Linked DNA regions of Homo sapiens. The protein of the gene in region 1 purifies or fractionates together with the protein of each later gene. This does not show direct contact. Each region holds a gene or a part of one and is shown on either strand. Other genes may lie near its edges.

Region 1 (4,842 bases):
ATTTTTAGTAGAGACGGGGTTTCACCATTTTGGCCAGGCTGGTCTCAAACTCTTGACCTCAAATGATCCACTCGCCTTGGCCTCCCAAAGTGCTGGGATTATAGGCATGAGCCACTGCGCCCGGCCAGTTTCTTTTTAATTGTTACTTATCCTAACCCTTTTAGATGTAGAGTTCACTCACCAGCCTGTCCTCTGACTCAAATATGGAGTAATCAATGGTGAAATCTGCACTAAAGTCATCTGCAGAGGAGAAAGAAAATCAGTAATAATTAAAGAAAAATGTAACTCTAGATCTGGAAATGAAAAGGGAAGAAATTACTCAGAATAGTTTAACTTAAGTTGTAACATTTATTGGTATAATCCAATTTTATTTAACTAATGTTAAAAATGACTGTGAATGTGTATGCATTTATATTTTCAATGTAGGTATCTAAAATAATTTACAAATTTGAAAAATTTTCAAGTTCTTCTTTTTTTAGAGTCAGGGTCTCACTGTGTTAACAGGCTGGAGTACAGTTGGTTCAATCATAGCTCACTGCCACCTCCAGCTCCTGAGCTCAAGTGATCCTCCTGCCTCAGCCTCCTGAGTAGCTGGGACTACAGCCATGTGCCACCATGCCCAGCTAATTAAAAAAAAAAAAATTTGGCCGGGCACGATGGCTCAAGCCTGTAATCCCAGCACTTTGGGAGGCTGAGGTGGGCAGATCACGAGATCAGGAGTTCAAGACCAGCGTGGCCAACATGGTGACACCTTGTCTCTACTAAAGATACAAAATTAGCCGGGCATGGTAGCACACGCCTGTAGTCCCAGCTACCTAGGAGGCTGAGGCAAGAGAATAGCTGGAAGCCGAGAGGCAGAGGTTGCAGTGAGCTGAGATTGTGCCACTGCACTCTAGCCTGGGTGACAGCATGAGATTTGGTCTCAAAAAAAAAAAATTTTTTTTTCTATAGAGACAAGGTCTTGCTATGATGTCCAGGGTGGTCTTGAACTCCTGGGCTCAAGCAATCCTCCCATCTAAAAATCACTATCTGGAAAAATAACATCATCATGAGTCTTTTTTTTTTTTTGTGACGTAGTCTCATTCTGTCGCCCAGGCTGGAGTGCAGTGGTGTGATCTCAGTTCACCACAACCTCTGCCTCCCAGGTTCAAGCGATTCTCCTGCCTCAGCCTCCTGAATAACTGGGACTACAGGCAGGTGCCACCATGCCCAGCTAATTTTTGTATTTTTAGTAGAGACAGGGTTTCACCATGTTGGCCAGGCTGGTCTCAAACTCCTGACCGCAGGTGATCCACCCACCTCAGCCTCCCAAAGTGCTGGGATTACAGGCATGAGTCACTGCGCCCAGCCCATCATAAATCTTTTTTCATTTTTTTTTTTTGAGATGGAGTCTTGCTCTGTCACCCAGGCTGGAGTGCAGTGGCACGATCTCAGCTCACTGCAACCTCTGCCTCCCGGGTTCATGCCATTCTCCTGCCTCAGCCTCCCAAGTAGCTGGGACTGCAGGCACCCGCCACCACACCCGGCTAATTTTTTGTATTTTTAGTAGAGACAGGGTTTCACTGTGTTAGCCAGGATGGTCTCGATCTCCTGACCTCGTGATCCGCCCGCCTCAGCCTCCCAAAGTGCTGGGATTACAGGTGTGAGCCACCACGCCCGGCCCCATCATGAGTCTTGATAGGTTTTGTTCATAGCCAGATTTTTCTCTGACCCCATTGCTCTGCTTCAAAGTGAAGAGCAAAGTCTCAGAACTAAATATCCTGAAGCCTCTCTCCAGTTGGCTAAGGGCAAGAGCCTTTCATGTACTCACCATAACTGGGGGTGACTGTATAATAATAGACCACCTGATAATATTCATCCTCTCCCAGTCTTTCTTCATCCTCATATTCTTGTCCTATGGGGACAAGGACTAGAGGTCAAGGGACATCTGGAACACCTTACTAACAAAAGGACACCTGGAGATGACCTCAGCGCTCCCAGCTTTCTTGCTCTTTCTTTCTTTTCTCTCTCTCTCTCTCTCCTCCAATAGTCATACTCCTTTCTTGCCTGTGCACCTCTACACCCCTCTCAGTCTTCTGGGATCCATATCTGTAATGAGGCCTGTTACTCCGTGCCCTTTCAATCCAGGAACTCCTAAAACAGAAAACAGTCCCCTTCACATACTATAAACCCAAAGGGAGAACCAGACCTAAAAAAGGTAGGAAAAGTAGAGACCAGGAATTAAAAACGCCAAGTCTTCTATTTAGTATGCTCCAGATCTTACTGTATTTGTGAGACATCTTTTCTTATCAGTATCTCTTACAAATAACTAACATACACCCTTAGGCTTTGGATTTGAGCTTTAGTTCCACCTTCACTGCTAACAGAATAACCCTGAACAATCCACTTAACATCCGCTTTCTTAAAATGAGTCAGCTGGACTAAAATGACCCATCTCTGTTAGTTTTTCTTCCCTTTCAGAACTAAAAATATGTGGCTTTGATATGACTGGATCAAGAACTCCAGGCCTCCTGCTAAACACTTCCCTGAGCTCCTTGAATGCTTTCCCTTCAACTCCAAGCTAATGACACAAGAATCTAGAGGAAAAGGAAACAATGAGACACACCTGGTAGACTGGGGAACAAAGGAGGGAAGGAGCCAAGCTACTCTTGGGACCCTGTCCCTGAAGACAGCCAGTTTTCCACTACCCTAAAGGTCACCCCACTTCTGTGTCTTTACTAATAGCAGGTTTTTTTCTCCAATTCTCTGGGAAAGGAGATACCCTAACTACTAGTTTCAGACTGTGACACCTTCCAATAATCCCTCCTTCACCCTTACTTTAGCCCCTGTCATCTTGTTCAACTTCCGTGGTGATGGAGAACTGAGCTCAGTGTTGCTAGGGCCTCCTTGTGTCTGGAGCTCCATCCTCCTTGTTTGACAGGACTCTGCTTTTTTCCCCCTTTCCTGGCTCTGCCTTCCAGATCTCCATTCTGCCCTCAACACCGGACCCCAGCACGATGAGAAAACTCTATCGCTCCCCACTGAAATGTACCTCTCACCCACTCCTCATTTTTTTTCTCCCACCCCATTTATGGTAGAAGACCTGGCACAAAAGCTCAGAGAGAGGAGTGGACTTACCCAGGATAAGTGGCACAGCAAAGATGGCTACAAAGAGGACATCCATTCTGGATTCTGCACTATTGCTGTGAAAGTAAAAAAGGAAATTACAGAGTTTCCCACCAAACTTACCCCGCCTCCCCTCCTCCTCCAAAGCAGGGAAGGAGCTGCAGCAACTCTTCTCCTCCCAGGGGGCAGAACTCCCCGCCTACTGGCTGACTGACTAGATCTCCGGTTACTGCCGGTCCCCAGCCAGAGCTGCCCAGATTGAGAGGCAAAAGGGGGTTTTGATGCAAACATGTTTCTTAAGCTCCCCCTGCCCTAGATTAGATCCATTCAAGACTCCCACTGTCACTACCAAAATAAAAATAAAAAATAAGCCTACCAAGAAGTTTCCCCTCTCCCGGCTTTCCTTCCTTCCTCCAAGGCCTCATAAAAAGTTCACCCTCCCTCTCACTGTCTCTGACTTACCATCACCACCCAGAGTTGCCTTTCTCTCTGAGGCTTCATCAGTCTCTTTTCGTCACAGTGGAAATGTTCTGAGGAAGGGGTGAGCATTTTTCTAGACTGAAAAGAATCCCTTTCTTCTGTCTGTCTGGAGCTATAGAGAATAGGAACAATATTTACCCATCATTGTCTGACTTAAAGCACCTGCTGCATGGCTTCAGCTAAAAGTCTCTCAGCCATGGTCAGTTATTTCCTTTCTGGTAACACTGACCTCACCTCACCTCTTTGTTTTTTTTTTGAGACAGAATCTTGCTTTGTCACCCAGGTTGGAGTGCAGTGGCGCGATCTCGGCTCACTGCAACCTCTGCCTCCCGGGTTCCAGTGATTCTCCTGCCTCAGCCTCCCTGGTAGCTGGGACTACAGGCGCGTGCCACCATGCCCAGCTAAGTTTTGTATTTTTAGTAGAGACGGGGTTTCACCATGTTGGCCCAGGCTGGTCTCGAACTCCTGACCTCAGATGATCCACCTGTCTTGGCCTCCCAAAGTACTGGGATTACAGGCATGAGCCACCGTGCCCGGCCTCACCTCATCTCTTTCTCAACTTCCAGGATGCAGGTTGGAAGAAGGGAGAAAGCAGATAGTCTCTTTCCCTGCTACAGGTGCCACACCTTCCCTCCCACATTCAGTCACTTGGTATGTTCCCTTCATTCCGTCCTACAGGTGTAGAGTTTTTATCCTTTCCTCTGCTTTTATGTTTCCCATGTTCATTCAATTCAGAAACCCTTAGCAACATACGTGCTAGGCACAGTGTGCTAGGCCTAGTGTGATAGGCAATTGAGAGCTTATAGGCAAGGGAATAAGAAAAGACAGTTTTGCTTTGTTCTTAAGGGAAGTTAATAAGTATCTGCTCAACATCTACTATGAGTCAGGCACTATGCAAGTGTCTGTGGAAACACCCATGAACAAGATAGGTTTACAGCCTCCTGTCAATGGTCAGAAGATGCTGTGGTAACAGCTCAATGGAGAGATGAAGCTGGCCACAGTGGCTCACGCCTGTAATCCCAGTACTTTGGGAGGCTTAGGCGGACAGATCACCTGAGGTCAGGAGATCAGCCTGGCCAACATGGTGAAACCTTGTCTCTACTAAAAATACAAAAATTAGCTGGGCTTGGTGGCAGGCGCCAGTAATCCCAGCTACTAGGGAGGCTGAAGCAGGAGAATCACTTGAACCTGGGAGGCAGAGGTTGCAGTGAGCCGAGATAGCACCACTGTACTCCAGTCTAGGCAACAGAGTGAGAC
Region 2 (4,266 bases), on another chromosome or scaffold:
CAGATGCATACTTACATTTCCCTCAGAGTTCTACCCTCGTTTACTCTTTTATTATTTATTATGATTTTAAAAATTAGTTTTAATTGCATGCCTTTTTATATACTCCTTCAAATCAGTTTTGAAATGAGGAAGAAAATGATGGATTAACGAATACCTAAAATACCGTGGACTCTTTTGGGCTCCCACTTTGTCTCCTTTACATTATGTTTTTGATTTATTTTATTTAAGAAACCTGGCCTTTAAAAACACAATCACGTACCATTTAACACGGTTTAAGACAGAACCATAGATTGACCCCAGCTTCTTTTGGAAGGCATTGCCAGCACATGACTGTCTTTGGAATTTCCAGCCCAATGCTGAAAAATCAGACGTGAACACTTTATTTAGCGTGTATTTATTGAGCACGTACTACCACTGTTGAACTCTAGGGATACAACGTCGGTCCCATAGTTACTACCATGAGTGGAAGAAAGTGCCCCTTAAGCCATTGCAAGTAGGCTTTGAGTAATAGAGATTTTCCCTTTATAGCAAATGAGTAAGGATTAGCTCCCACTTCTCCTGGCTGAACTATGCAGTGATATTTATTTTATTCTAACTGTTCAGGACTTTTCCCTTCAGATTCGAGTCCCATTGGGTTTCCTCTGTTAGGCTTAACCCCAGAAAGTACCTCTTCTGCTTCATTTAGGACAGTTTATGTCTATTCCATTCAGACTCTTTTGTCACCCTCTTAGTTGTTAAGCATATTTCTGTTTTATCTTTTAAAGATCAGGCAGGAAACAACCTAATTATGTGCTTCACCCCACAAAACTTTTATTTCTGGTGAAGCTAAAGAAGAGAACTTACTGATTTTTTTCAATACTTCTGCCTTCCCTCAGACTCAGGGTGTTAAGGATTTAGGGATATTGACTGCCATAGCAGTGGCAGCTCTCCCTGCTCCTTCTTGTTCCAGCTTCTGGCTGTTTGTGGGGAATAACTTCTAGTGTAGGTTTATTTGTTTGTTGTTTGTTTGTTTGTTTGTTTTTCCCATCTCTGTATGTGTATAGGCGTGAGGAACCAATGGAAAATAGATCTCTATGTAAGCAAATTATTTCTTGTTTTTCCTCCAACCAGTGAAAGTTTTTATTAAAAAGAAACTTAATCAAATATTTGCTGTTACCAAAGCATGGTTTCATTCTTAAGAATATCAACAAAAGATCATCAAACATTTATTTTAAATCTCATAATTTAATCAGAGAGCCCATACTATGAGTAAGGTTTGATTTTTAAAAGACTAATTGTCTGGTGTACATTTTAGGTTTTCTGGACCCAAACCAAAGAATCTAGGAAACAACACTAAACTCATAGAATGGTTACCACAAAATGACCTGCTTGGTAAGTCAATGATGTGTGGTTACTTACTTGGCTGTTAGGTTTTAATTACATAAATGTGACTTTTTTTTTTTTTTTACTTCAGAGGTTCATACGGTATACGGTATGTATGTAGTATATGGTAGAGTTATTATGTTTTTTATCCAGTATCTCAAATCTTAAATTTGAGGCCAAAATTTTAAGTCTTTATTTATTGGAAAACAGTTTGTAAAATGTAAACCTTTGGGCCTCTATATTAAAATTTTTAGACCAGCCATCAATTTTAATTATCTGGAAATTATGTACTTAATGAACTATATAAATTAGTAGTGAATAAGATTATACCTAATTAGAGTAATCAGATGAAAGTAGAACAGTTAAAACAATAAGAATGTAGATTTAGGTTACAGGTTTGTTACAGATGGTCTGAGAACCAAGAGAAATTAGAAGTTATTCATTTGTCTGAAACCAAAGAGAAGCAGAAGACCATGGGAACAGTCAATTTATTTTAACTTTAACTGGATTATCTGCTCTGTTTAGTCCTAAATCATTGGGCATTTTTGAAGCATTTTATATTATTTAATCTTGGGGATTTTGATTCTCAAAATTAAAATAGTAATTAGTATATGCGTATCTTTTAAGTGTGTTTTTTAACTAAATTAGTTTTTTAACTAAATTTAACTAAAAACCAGTAAAGAATTTTATTTATGTATATAATTTATTTTCATCTAGCTTATTATAATACTATTCTATAAATGCTAAAACTAAAGAAAAAAGAATACAAGGCAATTTACCTTTCTTGATCCTTGTATTTTTTTATTTTTAAATCTTTTATGGCTTTACTGTTATGACTTAGATTCCTTAGAAGATAGGAAAGAAGCAGGAAGTTTAAGTGAGATAACCTGACTATCAACTATTTCAGTGCGACAGTGTGACACTGTTATGTATGAACATCTAAACTTTTATTGTGTGTGGGTTTTCCATTTCTTATTGTTTTTCTTTTTTTCTTTTTTTTGACTGTGAGGCTCTACTGCAAGGTCCATGCCTGAAAACTCTCCTCAAGTCCATAGCTGCTCTAGGCTTCTCAGTGTGAGAACTCTGACTTTTTCAAGATTAGTATCTTTTTTAACAATAGGCACTATCCTTGTGAGTCCTCTAATAGCTTCTAACTATGATCAAAAGATTCTTCCGGGATGAGAAGTAGGAACCAAATCAATGTCTTTCCCCTCCCCTCGTAGCCGCCCCTCCTCTTTACACAGCAGCTCTGCTTTATTTAACTGTTGGGTTTGGTGGTAGGTTTTGTTCAAAGAGAGGGGTTTTTGCTAAAAATAAAGTTTGAAATCCACTTCTAGGGCAGATCCTTTAGTTGGACCTAAGAGTCAGAAAAGCCACTTGTGGGTAAGGGCTAGAGACACTGACTAACCAATTCCACCAGTCTTCAGAATGGAAGAGCTCTGGGAGCACCATTGAGACCATGGTTCCCATACATATTAATTTTGTACCTGGCACATGTGTATTTTAAAAGATCGACATTTCAGCTAGCTATAATTTCTTTCTGGCCAATAACATATATCCTAAGTACAATGTTTTTGTTTTGTTTTGTTTTTACAACTCTTATGCCAACTTTTGATCCCTTTTATAGAAATGTAGGCCATTTACCAGGAGAGTAAATCTAGGTTTTGAACTTCCATATTAATTTTGACAAATTATCTTTTTTATTCCCATAACAACTAAATGTTATGTGATGTCTCATGTCTTACAAATGATTATAAATGTTTACCTCTACATGTTTGAGCACATAAATGTAAAATTAAACCTTAAAATTGTGAAATATTAATGCTGATAGAACTTGAATGTTGTGAATAGTGATTACAACATTTCTTTTTGGAGAAGCACACAAACTCTTCATGGACTTCTGGAATCCAGCCCTTTTTTACATTTTTTTTAAAAAGTGTTTTTGACTTTAATATTGATAAACATTTGAGTAGCCAGAAAGTAGATGTCTGTTTTTTCACTCTGGTATTGTTTGGCATTTCTTGCTTTCATTGGCTTCATAATAATTATTGGCCATTTAAATATGTGTTGTTAGTCATGCAATATTTGTGTTAAAAATAGTAATATACATTTCAACTACTTAAAAATGGCTTTTAATTGATATATCAAAATCTGACAATTAGGTATATAACAAATATTTTAATTGGTGTAGAGCAGGAATCAGTGAAATTACACCTTTAGGAATCCTTTATCTGAAATGCATGTTTACTGTAGTGCCGATTTTTAATGAATTTCTGGGAAAATCTCTTCTGTAGAGTAATAATGTTGTAAGTTGTTTTCTTTTTCATCTTTCTTCAGGGCATTCAAAGATTAAAGCCTTCCTGAGCCATGGTGGTTTGAACAGTATTTTTGAAACTATATATCATGGTGTGCCTGTAGTGGGAATTCCACTCTTTGGAGACCATTATGATACTATGACCAGAGTACAGGCAAAAGGCATGGGGATATTGCTAGAATGGAAGACAGTTACTGAAAAAGAGCTCTATGAAGCACTAGTGAAGGTTATCAATAATCCCAGGTAAGGTTTCAATTAACATTAAAGCTGATGAACTTACATACCACAGTATATTGTCAGTAGCCAATTATTTTCAATAGATTGTCAATAAATTATCAAATTATGGAAATATCCTTTAGATTCCTGTGATAATGCTTTGTGCATGTTTTCTATTATTTAGAAAATGAAAACAGCAGTCATTTGACCAGCCATGTTATGACACCAGATAATATTCTGCAAGGATCTTCCAAACAGGGAGAAACTGCAATGGGAACAATCTTTGGATATCTACATTGTGTCAAATGTTATGTGCTTTATTTCATTTTCATACTTATAACAGCTGTATATCACAGTTTTTATTATCCACATTA
Region 3 (4,266 bases), on another chromosome or scaffold:
GTGTTGCTATGTATACTTATTGTTTCTACACAAGAGCATTTTGGTTACTGTTTTTAATTAGAATTTTATTAAAGCTTTTCTTAATTTTCACTATTTATAAATGGTTCCTTAATAATCATCTCTTACTGAGATATTTACTGTATTTTATTGACAACAATCAGTTTCTTTAGGTAATATGCAATTTAGCTATTGGTTTGAATACCAATGCATTAAATGAATATGCAAAAATTTGTCAGAAGTGTTTATTTGTTCAAGAACAAAAACAAAATATTTTCTTGAATTAAGATTTTTACTAAAATAGGGTATGTTTATCTCATATAACTTATTGAGGGTTAGAATTTGGGTTGGGGTTATAAACACTATATTCAATATAAAATGATGAATATTAAATATAATAATGATGATGAATAAATGTTACATTAAATGCTTCCCTCAATATTTTATTTATTTGTAATGGTTGATAATAAAAGCACGGAGATAAACCATAATTTGAATTTCTTGGTCTTTCTTCAAATCGGAACAGCATTAATACTTACAGGACATATTCGAGCAATCATGGAATGAATCTGTTTCGTGCTCCTGTTATTGTCAGTCAGTTTTTCTTTGAAGAAGAAGTACACCTTAGCATCATTTGGATCAGTACCATCTGGGATGACATGTGCATCTACAAACATAGGTTCTAGAAAAAAAGGTAAAAGACTAGGTATATATTCATTATGAAAATCCATCTTCTGTCATCCAAGTAGACCACAGGCAGATGCCTTCCCCATCTTTGGTAGAAAAAAACAATTCAACATTTACAGGCACATTTCTAAAAGCAGTAATTGCATTCACACACCATGCCACATTTGGAATGTCGAGTACCACAGGAAGTGCAGGAAATGTGAAAATTATTTGTGCACCAATGAGTTTCAAAAAATTGAAAAACTTTTCTACCAGTTATTTCCTAAGGAATCTGATGGCTATTTTATTGAAAAAAAATATTTATTTTTCAAAGTATGTTTTTCAATCTAGCACATATAAACTCAAATTTGTTGAAGCAGAATGAGGAGTTGGAAGTCCAAACTCTGAAAAACATGACTTTTCTTAAAATGCAACATACGAAATGAAGGGGAAACTTTTCAAGGAAAAACAGCGTCATTAGTCATTTGGAGACATACAGGGTTTCCTTATTTCAAGAACAAAACAACTTTTAGAATATTCTATTTCCAGATGTACTGGAGGAATAATCTGAATAAGTAAATGAACAATCAATGCTTTCTTGTGCTGGCCTATCAGCGAAATAGGATGCTTCACTGTGGTGATTCATGCTTAACTCTGCAATGTTAAATGAATTGCCACATTTAGGGTCAGCTAAAAATTTTCTCCAGGGTGAAATGACAAGAATCTTCGTTTTTTGTTTTTGTTTTTGTTTTTTTAATTGCTCTAAACAACAGCAATTGATTGGAATAATACGGTAAACCAAATGAGCACCTTTTTTGATGTGAATTCCATATGACTCCAAGAGCTGGAGGCAACTGAATATGGATAATCATAGTTATCATTCCTATGATTTCTACTGAATATTAGTCCATTTATGAGAAAATACATACCAGTTTTGTAATTTTAGAATCTAAGTATAAAACAAAAAGAGAGGAGGCCCCGGCTATACTCTGTTCATTGCATCTCAATGTCATACATTTGGGATAATTTTTAGATTTGGTATTGTTAAAACATACAAGCAGATTAAATGAAGTAAAAAGCATATTTAATTGCAATATGTTACAATTAAACAACTGGAGAAGATGCTTGGGTACTGAAATATAAATTATCACTGTCACTTTTATTTATTCATATTCATATGATAACTGTAGGATGATTAATAGAAATAAAGAATCGAAATATGGACTATGAGCTATTCAATTGTTTATTTTCCCCGAATATTTTAAATCATAGGGTACAGAATTACCATTATTCATGTAATAGCCTGCTATTTTAGTTTTTAACCATTTTCCCTAGTTGTTAGGATAGAATTAAATAAGTTAGTTTAACACGATACTAAAAAATAAATGCATCAAATGCTTTCTTACCACTTAGCCATTTGGAATTATGTTGATCAGTTCTGACCGCATTCCTCTTGGTTAAACTTCGAAAAATAGCAGCATCTGTCCCCATGAAATCTATATACATTCCAGAGAAAAGCTCCTCATCTATGAAAAAGAAAATATCAATGAAATGTAAATTTTTAAAGCTATTTTGAAATTCTAGGTGAGTTTATTTATTAGGAGATCACCACAGGTATTACAGTGTTATGATAATTGGTTATAACAAATATTAATTGGTTTGCATTGTCCAGCAAATCAATAAATTTTATAAATTTTAATCTTTTCTCATTATTGCCTGAATGATAATTACTATGTTTTTTAAAAAATCAAACCTCAAAACAACTTTATTCTATGTAAAAGTGAGAGTTCCTCTACCTGTACTTAATTATACTATATATTAATTTTTATATAGAGTCTATCAGAAATGGCAGACGTATAATAGATAACAAAATAGCTTAACTGTTTACCTATAATACATTTAAAAGAAAAACACTGTAAGAGTCAGAAAACATGGTTTCTAACTTTGGTAATCCCTAACAAGCTGGGAACTAGTGCTAAGCTATTGAACATCTAGAGTCTCAACCTTCTAATCTACAATGTATGGGAATTAGATTATGATCTTAAAAGTTCTTAACACATATTAAAATTTCTAAGATCATCCTAAATGGATTGAATATAATAGTTTTAAGAATTATTATTATGACATGACAAGGAGGCCACATTATAACTGTCAAAACATTATCAGTGACTAAAAAATGTAATCACTAAAAGTACATATTTTGATCTTTAGTGCTAGAAGTTTCCTGGTAAGGTAAACAAAGTGCTACTTTTTCAACTGCAACTCAGCCATAAAAATAGAATACGATAAGAAAGAAAAGATACTTAAAATTAAATAAATTTTCACTATTAACAGAATCAGATGTATTAATCTATATATACATAACATTCAACATTTACCTTATTGTTTGAAGATCCATATTACTTTTCATCTAGTAAGGAGCAGTAAGCATTGAATTGGTAACAAACGTGACCCCTGAGTATAAAACAGTAGCTAAATATCTATTATAAAAAGCATGAAATTTATCAGCCTGGCCCACTGAACTGCCATGCAGCTGCGTTCCTTGACTGTTGTTCTAGGATTACTCCCTGGGCTACCTTCAGACCGTGGTCATTTTGGCAGGATTGGAACATTTCAAAGTACTCTAAGCTCACTGTTTAGTAATAAGCAGTACCAGTCGGCCCAGCATTGAATGGAGAATGGAATGTATCTAATATGTGCTCGCCAGGTTATGAACTGGACCCCTACCAGTTAGCAAGCTGGTGTGGCGGGCATTTTGTTGCTCAGCTCTGCTTCCTAGTAGGGGTTCTAGGCCCAGGGAAACAGATTATAGGGAGATAACAAAAATGTGTATGAAGGCTTTTTTTTTTCTTTACCATTTTAGCTTCTTTAAAATTCTAAGAACATTTGTGAGGCTTATATACACACAGATCTAGCTATTAAATTGTGGCAACTTTGTAAATAATTATTTCACATTTTTGTATATTCAATTAACCATTAAACTGTGGATTATACATTCCTGCTGTTCAACAGATTGATTGGCACAGCTATCAATTGTCATATCTGTTTTCAAGCAGAAAAAGAAAAAAAGATACTAAGAAGTTAGTGTATGGCAGAGAGGGCTAATTCTAATCCTACTTCATACCACCTTATTAGTCATGTCTCAAACATTACATAAGCCTGCACATCTAATTGGCTTCATTTCCTATCTTAAATTCGCAGTAATTTTAACAGCAAGTAAGGAACTTTCTGCTTCATTTTATATCAATAAGAAATTTTTGATAAATGTCACTTTGGTAACAATCTTGAGAGGATTTTTTGCATGACCTTATGCAGAAATAAACTTGTGCCTTTTAGCTTTATTTCAAAAACATTTTGCTTTCCAACTGTATTTCTACTGACTAGAAAAACTTCATAAAGTTATGTAGGCTCTTTAAAAGATAACATCTGACTTCGTTGTTGCCTACAGCAGTGACTGAAAATAGCAAAAGCACACTGAACTTGCAAAACTACATCATGAAATTTGGAATTCTAATTCTTCAGGTTTCTGGTCATTTAATAGATATAAATATCTTAAGCAATCTGTGCTTTTATTAGCACACTGCGCTTGAATGGAAATGATAA
Region 4 (3,500 bases), on another chromosome or scaffold:
CCAACCTGTTTTTGTTCCTTTTTCACAAGAGAGGTGGAAGGAAACACTTGCAAAAGCTCTCATTCGAATCTCAGAACGTTATCTGGATCTGCAACACAGGGCAGCTGCTAACCTTTCAGAGCAATCTTCGGCAGCCCTAAATGGTATTAACATCTTAGACATAGCATCCCAAGCCAATGAGGGCCAATCGGAAGTCCAAAGCAGTTACCTCTCCACTGCCCCCAACCAGCAACCAAAAGCCCTATGCTGGTTCTCCAACCGGCGTGTGTGCCTCCTTAAGGAAAAAACTTCCTTCCTCCCATAGAGAAAGCAGTGAACTATAGGGTGAGGTCAACATCTGGTTTCTGCATAAGAACATCCATATTGATACCAGAAGTCATAGCCTACAGGGCTCTGCATAAGCTGCCGGCTTCTCACTGCCTCAACACCTTCCATGCCACTGCTTGCTTGCTTCGTTCTAGCTACAGTGGCCTCCCTTCTACCCTGGAGTAGGCCTTAGGACCTAGCATACGCCGTGCCTTCTCCTTGGCATGCTCTGCCTCCACCTCTCTCTTTCCACTGTACCTGGCTGCTCCGTGTGTCATTCTGGTTAAAAGATACCTCCAGAGAGGTGACCTTCTAGTGCAAAGTAGCCCCTCAGATATTTTAAACCCTATCACCATTTTTCTTCCTGGAATGTACTGCTATCTGACTTTCTCTTGCTTATTATTTCTCCCTTCCAAAGATAACAAAGCATCTATGAGAGCAGGGCCTTTGTCCATCTGTTTCTCACTGTATGCACAAAATGTGGGGGATATTCCAGCCAATGACAGACATTTCCTGAAGGACCAGGCTTGAAAGACAGAAGCCAAAGGGCCAGTCCAGGACTAAAAAGCTCAGGGAACCAGGAGACAGGCAGAACGTAGGGAAGAACAGGCACACAGAACCTGGAGGTCAAGGAGGAAACAGGCAGCAGGCAAAGTGGGATGGGGGTCGGCAGAGAGAAGCTGGGAGCCCACAGCTGCTTGAGCCTGAGCTGGCAGCTTTTCTAGGACAGTACCCCAGCCCAGAGAAGCCAGGGTTAACAACGTGTGGATGGACCATAAGGGGAAATGTCACCTTGCCTCAGATTTCCATTACTGTTCATTAGAGAACACAAGTGGACCGGGTTTGTCCTGTTAGATAAGAGGTGATCACTAGGGATCAGAATTTGGGTCAGGCTGCTGGAGACAGAGATCAATTCACCTCAGAAACAAGAATAGCATTGACTCGGGTGAGTGGCACCATCCATGACACAATTCCCGAGACGTCACTGGCAGGCATGGCCCCTGCCACACTGGCTGGGAGATGCAGATGGGGCTGACCTGCAGAGGGCTCTGGCTCTACACTTGCCTGGGAGGCAAAAGCCAACACACTCCTCTCTGGACTGACAGAGTTAATACACAGAAAAGCCCTCCACACTCCAAGAACAAACGCACTGAATGTTCCACACGGGCTGCCCGGGAGTTCTGAGTATCACTTTGGAGTTGCCAAATCCCAAAGAAGTTCAGAAGTCTCTTTTCAAATCACCAAAACAAGGATGGGTTGGGGAAGGGAAGATACTCTTCAAGTTCTATTATTGTTTGAGTACTAGTCACAAGTCACACTAACAGCCAACAACAAGCACACAATGTCAGGCACCTGACACACAGCACTTTGCTCATGTCTCACAGTCCTTGGTGAGAGGCACTGACACCCCACTTTAAAGCAGTTTTGTGCTTCTAGGGCCTAAGCCATGCAGACAGGATGTGGCAAAGACAAACCAGTTGGCTCCAAACCCATGCTCCTAACCACTACAACTCTCGACCTGCCACTTAGAAGAAGCATTTTCAGAGGGCAGAGAAATGCTACATTTTATGTGTGCACCTTATGAAGATGTCGTGAGCGAATCCAAACACAGGCGTGAAAGAGACTTGGGACACACACACACACACAAAATCCAGTAGAGAGAGAGACTCACCCAGAGACTATCTAGGTCAGAGACTGATAAACATTTTTGGTAAAGAACCAGACAGTAAATATTTAGGCTTTGCAGTCTGTATGACAACTACTCAACTCTGCCACTATAGTGCAAAAGCAGCCATAGACAGCATATAATTAAATGGGCATGGCTTTCTTTACAAACACAGGTACCAAGGAAGACTTGGCCCGTAGGCCATGGTTTGCTGACTCTGCCTTAGACCATGGGAGTCCTGGGAAATAGTTGAATCAATAAGGAACTTGATCAGATGAGTATTTAGAATAACCATGGTGACTGCTGATTGATGGATTCAGAATGTTTCAGATGTTTTATGAAATAAATACTGGAATTACCGTGTTTATCTGTTATTGCATTTGTTACAAACAAATGGGAGTGGAGGTGTTCCAATAAAACTATTTACACAATCAAAGGTCCTGAATTTGGCGCATAGGTCATAGTTCACCGAGCCCTGCTGCCTTGGAATCTCTAACCAGAAATTCTAATAAATCAGCAATCATCTAAAATCAGCTACTACAATCCCTCAAATACCTACTGTATACCCATTTATCCTAAAAGCCTCTGATTATACCAATATGGGGATGAGATAAAGAAGGAATTTTTTTCTTCTTTTTGCTGGATTCATTTAAACCAGACACAAATCCTAGCCATACAGGATCAACTCTTCACTCTCAAAGCAGATGTGTAGGCAATGCACTGCACATAGGCTGCATTTATGGCAAAAAAAAAAAAAAAAAAAGAGACTGCAAACTAATGGCCTATGCATCCACATCACTGTTCTGCCAGCCCAGCTATACCATTGAGAATCCTACAGTCTCTGCACCAGCATGTGACATTAACTACCAGAGCTGCCTGCATGTCACACAATGTTACTGATACTGACAGATTCCAAGGGAAGCATATATCATCAGAATGGCTCTCCAGCTTCTAGGACTGGCCCTGGACTATACTAACTAATCCCTAGTACAATCCTCTTGTTCAATCCAAATTGTTGGTGCCAGAACTGGAAACCAGGGGGAACACTAGGCTTTCAAGTTTGAAATAACTAAAACCAGGCCAGGCACAGCGGCTCACACCTGTAATCCCAGCACTTTGGGAGGCTGAGGCGGGCAGATCATCTGAGGTCAGGTGTTTGAGACCAGCCTGGCCAACATGGTGAAACCCCGTATCTACTAAAAACACAAAAATTAGGCAGGCGTGGTGGTGTGCGCCTGTAATCCCAGCTACTCTGGAGGCTGAGGCTTGAACCCAGGAGGTGGGTGTTGCAGTGAGCCAAGATCACACCACTGCACTCCAGCCTGGGCAACAACGCAAGACTCCATCTCAGAAACAAACAAACAAAAAAACTAAAACCAGTTATCTGCTTGATAACATCCTTAAAAAGATGATGTCAGATAGCGTTTGTGGCTTCCACTCTTAGTACAGTTCTCCAAGGTGGCAGGAAGGGGATAATTATCACATATCTAAAGACATTTTGATTGTCACAACTAGGGAGCTGTTACTG
Region 5 (4,266 bases), on another chromosome or scaffold:
GATGATTCTGCAGGTATTTTGTATGTTTGTATTTCTTTTCCTTCATTACTGTATAATTTCACTGCAAAATCTTTAAAAGACAATAAAACTCATTGTCTCCTGAAGAAAAGCTGCAGAAATAAATTACCTAATGTAGTTTTTCATGTTTGGACTTGATGTTGATTTTCTTGAGTCAGAAGCATGGACCATTCCTTGTCTTAACATCCTATATGACTTAACTGAGCTATGGGAGTGTGCTATCACTAGTCCAGAGGAAAGGTACCTTTGAGATGGTTTTGGCTGTGATGTAAAGTTTGTAAGGACTTTGAAAGAGTTTCCAGAGATAGAAGTTGTTATAATCACTACAAATAACTAGTTCTAGATTGGTGGCAAGATTTTGTCTTGAGGCTAACATCTAGATACTGAGAATAGCAAAAATGTGTGTGAGTTGTGAAAATATATTTTTAAAATATATAGTGAAAATACATGTGTATGTGTATATATTAAATGTATACTTTTAGTAGTCTTTTGAATTATAAAGCAGCCCATTATGACTGGCAAATAAGACCTTTTTTAAAAAAGCATTATATATCATGTAATATAATTTCATTGTGAAGTGGGTTTTTGGAAGGCATTTATTATAAATGAGAAGCTATAGTTTATGTATCTAGTAAATATAAATTCGAATAAGTTTTCAAGAATGTTTCAATTTATGACAATTTAAATTTCATTGTCACATGTTTTATTAATTGGCAATTAAATGGCAGGGTAACGTTTGACAGCCTTTATTAGGACTTTAAAAATTTTTTGCCAGTGTACTATAGTTTCATGCACAAATTTTTGTTTTAAGCTGTATTTGTGACATAGGTGCAAAACACAGTACAAAAGTATTTACAAAGCATATGAGAAAAGTGCATAGGACTAAAGACCACAAGAAAACAGATAAGAATCTAATAGTTTTCTAAGGGTAGCCAAATTGACTAGGAGTGTTATTTACTTTTTCTTAACCAAACTATTTTTAACCTACTTATTACTCGATAATGTTAAAATGTTTTTGAAAGTGATTTTCTTAAGAGTGAGATGTGTTAACCCTTTGTATGGGGTAGAGTGGGTACCTTTTAATTTAGGGCCTTGTAAATAGAATGTTATTTAATAAGTGCTTCACTAATGAACGTTTGTAGCCTGCTTTTACTAAAGGCTGTTGCCTGATGGAGCATTGGAGTTTTGTAGTTGGAAAAAGTGTGTCCTTTTTTCCTCTTGCTAATGACCATTTTCCTCCTCCTTCTAATTCTTACAGTGGACCCTCATAGACATCTGCCAACAAGATTGCTTTGGGAGTAGATGTAAACTCATCTAATTGTTACTATCCAGAGTAGCAATAAGCCAAATTACTCTTGGAGGAAAATAAAATCTTTGCTAGGTGCTTGATATTTTAGGTGTTCTCTCTCTTGCCTATATGTGACTCAAGCGCTCTGATTGGCCTTGCCAGACCAAGAGGCCCTTTTCCTACAGCTGAATTTTCCCCTACGGTCTCTTGTAAGCAGCATCTGGCATTGTTTCGGTGACTCTGTACTTCTCGGTTCTGGTTGTGCCCTAGCTGACAGTTGCTGCTCTCCAATTGCCTGTTGGTTGTCTTCCTCCCTGTGTGTGTCTAGCTGCTGGTGCACACTGCATGTGTCCAGGGCAGAATTATCTTGCGCCACCTCCAGTTTTCAGTTTTTTATTAATGCTATGATTATTCTGCCTGCCCCACTGGATTCAGTTTTGACCCTTCACCAAGTGGCATCAGTGCCTGTTACATCCTCTTTTGATCACTCTCCCACTGCCTTCACCATGGGGCACTGCAGCAGCCTCTCTCCTACCGCCTTTCGCCATTTCTGTTCAGTCCTGCATGCTCCCTCTGAATTTGTGGTCTTTGTTAATCATTCATCATTCATTTTGACACCTAATTGTGTACTGCCTTGTTAGCTACTTAAATGATTTCAGGGGTGTCATTCTTCACCTAGGCTGGAATTTCTGTAGGGCAGAACCTTTGTCAACATCTGTAGTACATAAATAGCAGGCATTCAGTTTTGATTGAAAGTTTGCCTAAACTTTCATTGTAATATAATTTCATTGTGAAGTGGGTTTTTGGAAGGCATTTAATTTATTATAAATGAGAAGCTATAGTTTATGTATCTAGTAAATATAAATTCGAATAAATTTTCAAGAGTGTTTCAACCTATGACAATTTAAATTTCATAGTCACATGTTCTATCAATTGGCAATTAAATGGCAGAGTAACGTTTGACAGCCTTTATTAGGACTTTTAAAATTTTTTGCCAGTGTACTATAGTTTCATGCACAAATTTTTGTTTTAAGCTGTATTTGTGACGTAGGTGCAAAACACAGTACAAAACTATTTACAAAGCATATGAAAAAAGTGCATAGGACTTTTTATACCTGAGAACCTGAGAGTCAGAAGTACAGGTAAAATTCAGTTCTGGTGCAGATGTCATGAGGAAGTCTGCTATAGTAGGACATTGAGTAACACCAGTTTTTTCTTCCCCACATGTTGCTTTTCCTTGTAACTAAAAGGAGTTGTATACACTTATCTAAACCATCACTTTTATAACTTTTTGATTTTAAGATTTTCAGATTCTCATAAAACCCTAATCTAGAGATCATGAAACTGAGGCTTAGAGAGGTTAAGTAATATACCCAGCGTGATAGGGCTGGTAAATAGTGGAGCCAGGATTCCGCCCTAAGACATCTGTCCCTTGAGCCAAACTATGTAACCCCAAATGAGCACTTCAGGAATTAGATTTTGTTATATTGTACCAACTGCAAAAAGAACAGACTTGACAGTTCATGCAAAACCCATGTATTAGTATTCAAGTAAAATGTACTTTTTTTTTTTTTCAATCAGCCACAAGCTTTCATATCACTTTCTGTTGACTTGTTAACAGTTTAAGTAATCACAGGCCATTCTGGATCATGAAGGTTCTTAAAAGGAAACCAGTGAGTGGATAATACAGGGAAATGAATATTTGGTATTCGAAGCTACTGTCTCTTTGTTCTTGATGACTTAGATACCTGGTTGTATTGCTAAGGTTAAGCAATATTGCCTTCTGTAGATACTGCTTAGCTCCAGATTGGTGTGATGAGTTAGTCTAGACTTGTGGAATATTCTCAGAAGCTGGCCCTGGACTAACAGGAGCTGGAGATAATGCAAGGGCTGGTAGTGGCATTTGCCTCGGCAGGCAGAAATCTCTCGCAGACTTCCATTAGAGGTCCAAGGGCTCCAGAAGAAGTTCAAAGGTGCTTTGTTCTTATTAGGGCATTTTGGAATTAGGTGGTCATTAGTTCTCATCTGTAGTTCCAAATCTGTTTTGTTGTTGTTGTTTTTTAATTCCCATGTGATTACTTTTAAAACCACAGATGGAGGGTTTCTAGAAAGCCTTTGCCATTTGCCTGATTGATTTTGTTGCATACAACTCTGCCGTTTTAGGGCAGAGGTTTGATGTTTAAGAGGATCTTTTAGATGGTCAGTCATGATAGAGTATGAAACCTACGTTTTTATTTATTTTCATTTATTTATTTTCTAGAAACTTGGTGAAAAAAACACATAACAAAATACTTAACCATTTTTATATGTACAGTTCAGTGGTGTTAAGTGTATTCACGTTGTTGTGTAGCAGATCTTCAGAACTTCTTCATGTAAAGCTGGAAGTCTATACCCATTAAACAACTTCCTATTTCTCTCCCTACCCTTAATCCCCACCCCCAGGCTCCTGGTAACCACCATTCTACTTTCTGTGTTTATGAATTTGACTACTTTAGATACTTCATATAAGTAGAATAATGCAGGATTTGTGACCTGCTTATTTTACTTAGCATAATATCTGTAAGGTTAATCCATGTTGTAGGATGTGACAGTTCCTTCCTTTTTTTTTTTTTTGTTTTGTTTTTTGAAATGATGTTTTGAGAATTTATTTACAACCATTGAACACGGATGATTTTGTAAAACTGACAATTACAGGCTCCTTAAACTCACAACATACATATATTTCAATATTTAAATAGCCTGTTTTCTTCAAAAGTAATTTTCTGCTTTTTCATAAAAATATAAAAAAGACAACATTTATAGTTCCTTCCTTTTTAAGGTTGAATTATATTCCATTGTATGGATATACCACATTTTGTTTATCCATTCATCCATCCGTGGACACTAGGCTTGCTCCTACCTCTTGGCTCTTGTGACTAATGCTGTGAAGTTGAGTATGCAAATATCTCTTCAAGACCCTG
Region 6 (3,087 bases), on another chromosome or scaffold:
AGAACTTCTTCAACTGAGATCAAGGCTTCCTGGAGGGAACCACTGCAAAAAGGCCATCAGGCAGTTTTCAAGTTATGTGACAGAGGGCAAAGACGGCCATAGGGTGCTCTGAGTTTTGGGATGGTCACATGACACAATCCAGCACTTGAACCTGAAAAAAAAAATAAAAGCGGTCAAAGAGTTTAGAATTCAGTGCTGAGCTCTTCTCCCTAATCAAGTGCCACATTTACACCTTGGAGAACCGGAGGTGAAGAGGATCTGAGACAGGAAACCTCGTGTTCAATGACTAAGAAGATGGGGTCCTGGAGCAAGACAGAAAACACTAAGGGCATGGTGGTATAAGGTTTGGGACATGCAGGCCAAGGAAGGATGGAAAGAGGACAGGAAACTGGGGGTACCTAGAACAACCCCTCTCTGAAAAGCTTGAGCCAAAACAGTCCCAAAGACAACAAGACCCCTCTCCCAGCCTCCACAGAATGGAAGATCTAAAGGTTCTCTTGAGATGATCCAGCTAGTATGGAAGATCTAAAGGTTCTCTTGAGATGATCCAGCTAGTGTCCTATTCTCCTGCAGTCCCTGTTCCTAGGTTTCCTCAACGAAGTTTGACAAAAATCTAAACCAACATAGCCAACGAACTTGCCTTGTTACACAAGAGTGGCTAAAATAGCATCTCAAATATTCTTTCAGTTCACTGTAAAAATTTTTCCCATGTACCTAGAGCACAATTCCCCAGGAATATGAGTTGGGAATGGCAAAAGAATATTGCCTGACTCACATTTTTCAAAAATAAGGAAAGCTGGCTGGGCGCAGTGGCTTACATCTGTAATCCCAGCACTTTGGGGGGCCGAGGCGGGCGGATCATGCAAGGTCCGGAGTTCGAGACCATGCTGGCCAACATTGTGAAACCTCATCTCTACTAAAATACCCAAAATTAGCCGGGCGTGGTGGCGTGCGCCTGTAATCCCAGCTACATGGAAGGCTGAGGCAGAAGAATCGCTTGAACCCAGGTGGCGGAGGTTGCAGTGAGCTGAGATCGCACCACTGCACTCTAGCATGGTGACAGAGTGAGACTCCCATCTCCAAAAAAAAAAAAAAAAAAAAAAAAAGGAAAGCAGGACCCAGTGGTGTGCTCCTGTAGTTCCAGCTATTCAGGAGGCTGTGGCAGGAGGACCACTTGAGGCCAGAGGGTCAAGGCTGCAGTGTGCTATAATTGGGCCTGTAAATAGCCACTGTACTCCAAGCTGAGCAACACAGTAAGACACTGTCTCTAAAAATAATTAAAGTAAAATAAAAATAAGGAAAGCTCCTGTGACATCAACCTGATCCAGAATTGGGGACAGCGCTACTGCGGGTTCAATGTACTGCCATGTTTTCCCTGTCTTATCAGTTCTATCAGCACACTGACCCCACTCGAGACCAACTACAAGACTAAGGCTGGAAGTGGTTGAGTAGCAGAAGTGTTATGTATTCTATCTTCCCAAGGGAACCATATCCACATCTACCCCTAACTTTGGCCTGAGCTGAAAATGGGTTTTCTCTCCCTGTGGCTCATTTGTTTCCTATATTGAGAGAACACCCAAAAAAAGACTACTCAAGATGACTTTTTACAAGTCTTTTCTTTATCCTAAAACATCCTCCAACCGAAGGCATGGGAAGCTATCCTATACTCTGACCTTGCCTATATTTTAAATGGCAGGGGCCCCAAGCTAAGAATCAGCAGGCAGTGGCATCTACAGCTTCTGGTCTGTAGTGGCGTAGAAGCAGGAAAATCAATGCTCCAAAGCAACAATGTCCAGCTTTCCTGCCAGTGAGCTGGGCTTGAGGGAGTGAATGGGACTCTTTCTGCCTTTTCTTTTTCTCAAAATACGACTGCATTAACTGGGTGTATGCACACACAAACATGTTCAAACTAGGGCACTCATACCTAGCTAGAACCTACTCAGGGAAAGAAATATGTATTTCCACAGTACCCTGATCACCCAGTAAAAGCTAATATTTATTGAATAATTACTATGCAAATTATGGTAAGCAAATTGTAGTGTGAATACATGATATGAGAATATCACTTAATTCACACAGCAACCTTCACAATGGGGTTCCTTTTGGTACAGTCTGAAAAGAGAATGATTATCTGCGCAGGGTCTCAGAGCTAGTGTGGTAGAATAAGAAATTAAACCTAAGTAGTTGCTAAACAATATTACATTCTAATCTATCCTATTGAAAGTGATCCGGGAGGTAGAAACCTAAATACAGGAATAACATAAGGGAAAGAGATAACAAGAAAGTTAGGGACACCTTGGACTCAAAGAATCTGGAAAGATGTGAAACCTGTAATTTTAAATCCCTTTGGAAGGGAAAAACAAGAAAAGTCTAGATATGGCAAGAGAAGGGGAGGTTAAATTTTGGGGGGATTCCAATAATCAGAAATAAGTGGCATTGCCAGAGGCCCTCATATAAGAGAACAGCAAAAAAGTTATCCTCCCTTAAGTTCCTCCCTCACTCCTCATATCAGACACAGCAAGAGAACTCAGCTCAACACCAAGAAGTCCTGCCCTTATTCACACCTTCCTTCCTATAGCCCTCATCCTCACAGAAGCTTCTAGCCTCTATCTTCAGCAGTTCTTAAGAGGTGGGGTGGGGGGCTGGGCAGTTTAGAGTGAGAGTGGAAAAAAAGAATAATCCTAGAGAACCATAAAAAAGTACAGATTTACAGCTGAGGAAGCTAGTTCTCCCCACAGCTTTTATAGACTCCCTCATTAAGAGCTTCCAGGTATGCAGAGAATGTCACAGCTTCAGGAATTGGAATCAGTTAACCACATCTGGATGCTGGATCAACTATAGTAGGGAAACGGGGAGAGGAAGGAAGGGTACTAAGATCTCAGGTAAACAATTACAAGCCTCAATGTCTGTTCCATCTCCAAACGGAATTACTATTTTAAAACTGAATTGGGAAAAAGGCATCCTGAACTATTCATGCTCAAAGAGTATGTGGAGAATGACTATAATGAGATAGGAAGGGGAGGACTTCATCTGGCTTGGAGGTTAGAGACTTCTGACCAACATAGGAACAGCTGCTGAAATGGGATG
Region 7 (4,266 bases), on another chromosome or scaffold:
TCACGCTCTGTTGCCCAGGCTGGAGTGTGGTGGCGCAATCATAGCTCACTGCAGCCTCAAATTCTTGGGCTCAAATTGATCCTCCCACCTCAGTGTCCCATGTAGCTAGGACCACAGGTGGGCGCCACCATGCCTAGCTAATTTTTAAAAATTTTTGTATAATAGATACACGGTCTCACTTTGTTGCCCAGGCTGGTCTTGAACTCCTGGCCTCAAGCCATCCTCCTGCCTCAGCCTCCCCAAATGCTGGGATTACATGTGTGAGCCACCGCGCCTGGCCTTCCTCTGGCTTTTGGTCACATCTGACGGTCTTTGACCAGCCCTTCTGCCCTCAGCCCACTGTGACCTTCTCTCCTGGTCTCAGACCACCCCCAGCCCCTGCAGAACCCCTCTTCTGCCCTCACGCCTCCCCTCTTCTCCGCAGGACACCCCTGCCCGCGATGGCCATCCTCCCGTTGCTCCTGTGCCTGCTGCCGCTGGCCCCTGCCTCATCCCCACCCCAGTCAGCCACACCCAGCCCATGTCCCCGCCGCTGCCGCTGCCAGACACAGTCGCTGCCCCTAAGCGTGCTGTGCCCAGGGGCAGGCCTCCTGTTCGTGCCACCCTCGCTGGACCGCCGGGCAGCCGAGCTGCGGCTGGCAGACAACTTCATCGCCTCCGTGCGCCGCCGCGACCTGGCCAACATGACAGGCCTGCTGCATCTGAGCCTGTCGCGGAACACCATCCGCCACGTGGCTGCCGGCGCCTTCGCCGACCTGCGGGCCCTGCGTGCCCTGCACCTGGATGGCAACCGGCTGACCTCACTGGGCGAGGGCCAGCTGCGCGGCCTGGTCAACTTGCGCCACCTCATCCTCAGCAACAACCAGCTGGCAGCGCTGGCGGCCGGCGCCCTGGATGATTGTGCCGAGACACTGGAGGACCTCGACCTCTCCTACAACAACCTCGAGCAGCTGCCCTGGGAGGCCCTGGGCCGCCTGGGCAACGTCAACACGTTGGGCCTCGACCACAACCTGCTGGCTTCTGTGCCCGCCGGCGCTTTTTCCCGCCTGCACAAGCTGGCCCGGCTGGACATGACCTCCAACCGCCTGACCACAATCCCACCCGACCCACTCTTCTCCCGCCTGCCCCTGCTCGCCAGGCCCCGGGGCTCGCCCGCCTCTGCCCTGGTGCTGGCCTTTGGCGGGAACCCCCTGCACTGCAACTGCGAGCTGGTGTGGCTGCGTCGCCTGGCGCGGGAGGACGACCTCGAGGCCTGCGCGTCCCCACCTGCTCTGGGCGGCCGCTACTTCTGGGCGGTGGGCGAGGAGGAGTTTGTCTGCGAGCCGCCCGTGGTGACTCACCGCTCACCACCTCTGGCTGTGCCCGCAGGTCGGCCGGCTGCCCTGCGCTGCCGGGCAGTGGGGGACCCAGAGCCCCGTGTGCGTTGGGTGTCACCCCAGGGCCGGCTGCTAGGCAACTCAAGCCGTGCCCGCGCCTTCCCCAATGGGACGCTGGAGCTGCTGGTCACCGAGCCGGGTGATGGTGGCATCTTCACCTGCATTGCGGCCAATGCAGCTGGCGAGGCCACAGCTGCTGTGGAGCTGACTGTGGGTCCCCCACCACCTCCTCAGCTAGCCAACAGCACCAGCTGTGACCCCCCGCGGGACGGGGATCCTGATGCTCTCACCCCACCCTCCGCTGCCTCTGCTTCTGCCAAGGTGGCCGACACTGGGCCCCCTACCGACCGTGGCGTCCAGGTGACTGAGCACGGGGCCACAGCTGCTCTTGTCCAGTGGCCGGATCAGCGGCCTATCCCGGGCATCCGCATGTACCAGATCCAGTACAACAGCTCGGCTGATGACATCCTCGTCTACAGGTGCAGGGTCCAGGCACTGGGGTAGCTTGGGTGGGGGAGTGAGGCAAGGGGAGGGTTGAGGGTACACCTACTAATACCCTACACCGAAGCACAACTGATAAGTGATGCTGGAAGGTTCCAAAAGAAATCAGAGAGCAAAAGTAAAAGAAATCAGGCAGCAAGGATAACAAGACTCTGGCAGAAAGGGTCAATGAAATCTGACAGCAGTGATAAAAAGAAGTCAGACAAGAAGGACGAAGTAAATGAGACAGCAAATGTTAAAATATATCAGGCTACAGGGCTAAAAAAGATCAAGCAATAAGGATAAACGAAATCAGGCTGCATGAGTAAAAAGAAATTAGGCAGCAAGAATAAATAGTAGTAGCAAACATAAAAAGGAAACCAGGCAGCGGGAGGAGAAAGTAATCAGGGCAGAAGAATAAAATGTTAATGGGCAAGGGTGGGTGGGGAAGATAAGGGGATAAAAATAAATTTAAGTTGTAAAGATAAAGAGAGAAACACCAGGTTTTCCAGATGACAGGACTAGATACTAGCTGGGCTGCAGGAAGAAAAGGAGATCAAACAGGAAAGCACAGGGAGCCCAGAAACAATGAAATAAGCAGCTCTGTTAGAAAAAGAAATCAGACCAGAGGTTAGAAGGAAATTGCAGGGAGGAGGTTCGATAGAGACTGGGCTTCGGTGTGTGTGGTGTGAACTATTCCATGTTTCAAGTTCTAATATAGTGACATCCAGATTTTTTTTTTTTTGAGACAGGGTCTCACTTTGTCGCCCAGGCTGGAGTGCAGTGGTGCAATCTCGGCTCACTACAACCTCCACTTCCCGGGTTCAAGCGATTCTTGTGCCTCAGCCTCTCGAGTAGCTGGGATTACAGACGTGCACCAGCACGCCCAGCTAATGTTTGCATTTTATTTTTAGTGGAGACGGGGTTTTGCCATGTTGGCCAGGCTGGTCTAGAAGTCCTGACCTCAGGTGATCCACCTGCCTCAGCCTCCCAAAGTGCTGGGATTACAGGCGTGAACCACCACACCCAGTGTAGATTTTTTCTTTTCTTTTTTTTTTTGAGACGGAGTCTCACTCTGTTGCCCAGGCTGGAGTGCAGTGGCACAATCTTGACTCACTGCAAGCTCCGCCTCCCAGGTTCATGCCATTCTCCTGCCTCAGCCTCCCGAGTAGCTGGGACTACAGGCGCCCGTCACCATGCCCGGCTAATTTTTTGTATTTCTAGTAGAGATGGGGTTTCACCATGTTAGCCAGGATGGTCTCGATCTCCTGACATCGTGATCCACCCGCCTCGGCCTCCCAAAGTGCTAGGATTACAGGCCTGAGCCACCGCGCCCGACAGATTTTTTATTTTCTAAATCAAATCAAACCTAGTTCAAGTTCCTTTTGCCAGGTAAACAGAAATATCCAGTTTGCCACACTTGTGGGGGATTCTCTTCTCTCTCCTGTTGTTGCAAACACAGAACCTGGGGTTTACACACTCCAAGAGGTGGCTCAGTCCAACTTGTTCCCCCAAGCTGGAGAGCACTCAGCACATCTGCAGTGACCGCATGTGGTCAGCAGTGGTGGCTGCTGACCTAGGTGCTGTTGACACCTCTTACCAAAGTCCAACCTTGCATGGATGGACTGCGGCTGTGGGTGAGTCCCTGTCCTCACGGCCAGGCTGGGCCAAGGGTGCAGCCCCAAGGCTGACTGTAAAGACTGGACCTCCCCAGGGTTGAGGACTGTTCCTTGGGGACCTAGTAGTACCTGGATGTCCTTTCCCTCCCTTGGGGCCAACACCTCAAGAAAAGGCCACTTGATTTCCATTTCAGTCCTGGCAACCCACTGAGCTCATTCTACTCCCTTTCTCAGACATGACTCGGAAGATTGCACGGAAGTCCTGCCCCTGAAAATCACACAAGTCGGCCAGGCGCGGTGGCTTAACCCCTATAATCCCAGCACTTTGGGAGGCCGAGGCAGGTGGATCACCAGGTCAGGAGTTTGAGACCATCCTGGCTAACACGGTGAAACCTCGTCTCTACTAAAAATACAAAAAATTAGCTGAGTGTGGTGGCACGCGCCTGTAGTCCCAGCTACTCAGGAGGCTGAGGCAGGAGAATTGCTTGAACCTGGGAGGCGGAGGTTGCAGTGAGCCGAGGCTGTGCCACTGCACTCCAGCCTGGGTGACAGAGTGAGACTCCGTCTCAAAAAAAAAAAAAAAAAGTCACACAAGTCCTGGCCACCTTGCCAGGTGGGGAATGGGATGAATGCTGTCCTAGACAGTCACCCTGCCCCAGGCGGCCACGGAGTTCCCTGTACCTCTCTCATTAGAATAGCCTAGGAATAAAACAGGTGATAAGTCAACTCTCCAACAGGGTGCCCAACTACAAAAGAAACTATAGTGAAATTGGGTGGTAAGGATTAAAAGG

What was found.
Region 2: the proteins of C1orf54 (region 1) and UGT8 purify together in Homo sapiens (co-immunoprecipitation; 2 studies listed by BioGRID and IntAct, with this or other methods). This does not show direct contact.
Region 3: the proteins of C1orf54 (region 1) and SEMA3C purify together in Homo sapiens (co-immunoprecipitation; 2 studies listed by BioGRID and IntAct, with this or other methods). This does not show direct contact.
Region 4: the proteins of C1orf54 (region 1) and MGAT5 purify together in Homo sapiens (co-immunoprecipitation; 2 studies listed by BioGRID and IntAct, with this or other methods). This does not show direct contact.
Region 5: the proteins of C1orf54 (region 1) and TMEM131 purify together in Homo sapiens (co-immunoprecipitation; 2 studies listed by BioGRID and IntAct, with this or other methods). This does not show direct contact.
Region 6: the proteins of C1orf54 (region 1) and GDF11 purify together in Homo sapiens (co-immunoprecipitation; 2 studies listed by BioGRID and IntAct, with this or other methods). This does not show direct contact.
Region 7: the proteins of C1orf54 (region 1) and LRFN3 purify together in Homo sapiens (co-immunoprecipitation; 2 studies listed by BioGRID and IntAct, with this or other methods). This does not show direct contact.

The regions. Positions count from the first base shown.
Region 1 is NC_000001.11:150,271,139-150,275,980, reverse strand, and holds the start of C1orf54 (uncharacterized protein C1orf54 isoform b precursor), read right to left. Parts: upstream 3,192-4,842; 5' UTR 3,164-3,191; coding exon 3,118-3,163; intron 1,895-3,117; coding exon 1,811-1,894; intron 241-1,810; coding exon 182-240; intron 1-181.
Region 2 is NC_000004.12:114,664,386-114,668,651, forward strand, and holds part of UGT8 (2-hydroxyacylsphingosine 1-beta-galactosyltransferase precursor), read left to right. Parts: intron 1-1,294; coding exon 1,295-1,371; intron 1,372-3,699; coding exon 3,700-3,919; intron 3,920-4,266. UniProt on the Homo sapiens protein: Catalyzes the transfer of galactose to ceramide, a key enzymatic step in the biosynthesis of galactocerebrosides, which are abundant sphingolipids of the myelin membrane of the central nervous system and peripheral nervous system.
Region 3 is NC_000007.14:80,803,570-80,807,835, forward strand, and holds part of SEMA3C (semaphorin-3C isoform 2 precursor), read right to left. Parts: intron 2,190-4,266; coding exon 2,070-2,189; intron 680-2,069; coding exon 537-679; intron 1-536. UniProt on the Homo sapiens protein: Binds to plexin family members and plays an important role in the regulation of developmental processes. Required for normal cardiovascular development during embryogenesis.
Region 4 is NC_000002.12:134,257,072-134,260,571, reverse strand, and holds part of MGAT5 (alpha-1,6-mannosylglycoprotein 6-beta-N-acetylglucosaminyltransferase A), read right to left. Parts: intron 1-3,500. UniProt on the Homo sapiens protein: Catalyzes the addition of N-acetylglucosamine (GlcNAc) in beta 1-6 linkage to the alpha-linked mannose of biantennary N-linked oligosaccharides.
Region 5 is NC_000002.12:97,988,931-97,993,196, reverse strand, and holds part of TMEM131 (transmembrane protein 131 precursor), read left to right. Parts: intron 1-4,266.
Region 6 is NC_000012.12:55,752,690-55,755,776, forward strand, and holds part of GDF11 (growth/differentiation factor 11 preproprotein), read left to right. Parts: 3' UTR 1-3,087. UniProt on the Homo sapiens protein: Secreted signal that acts globally to regulate anterior/posterior axial patterning during development. May play critical roles in patterning both mesodermal and neural tissues. It is required for proper vertebral patterning and orofacial development.
Region 7 is NC_000019.10:35,938,986-35,943,251, forward strand, and holds part of LRFN3 (leucine-rich repeat and fibronectin type-III domain-containing protein 3 precursor), read left to right. Parts: intron 1-424; 5' UTR 425-440; coding exon 441-1,855; intron 1,856-4,266. UniProt on the Homo sapiens protein: Cell adhesion molecule that mediates homophilic cell-cell adhesion in a Ca(2+)-independent manner. Promotes neurite outgrowth in hippocampal neurons.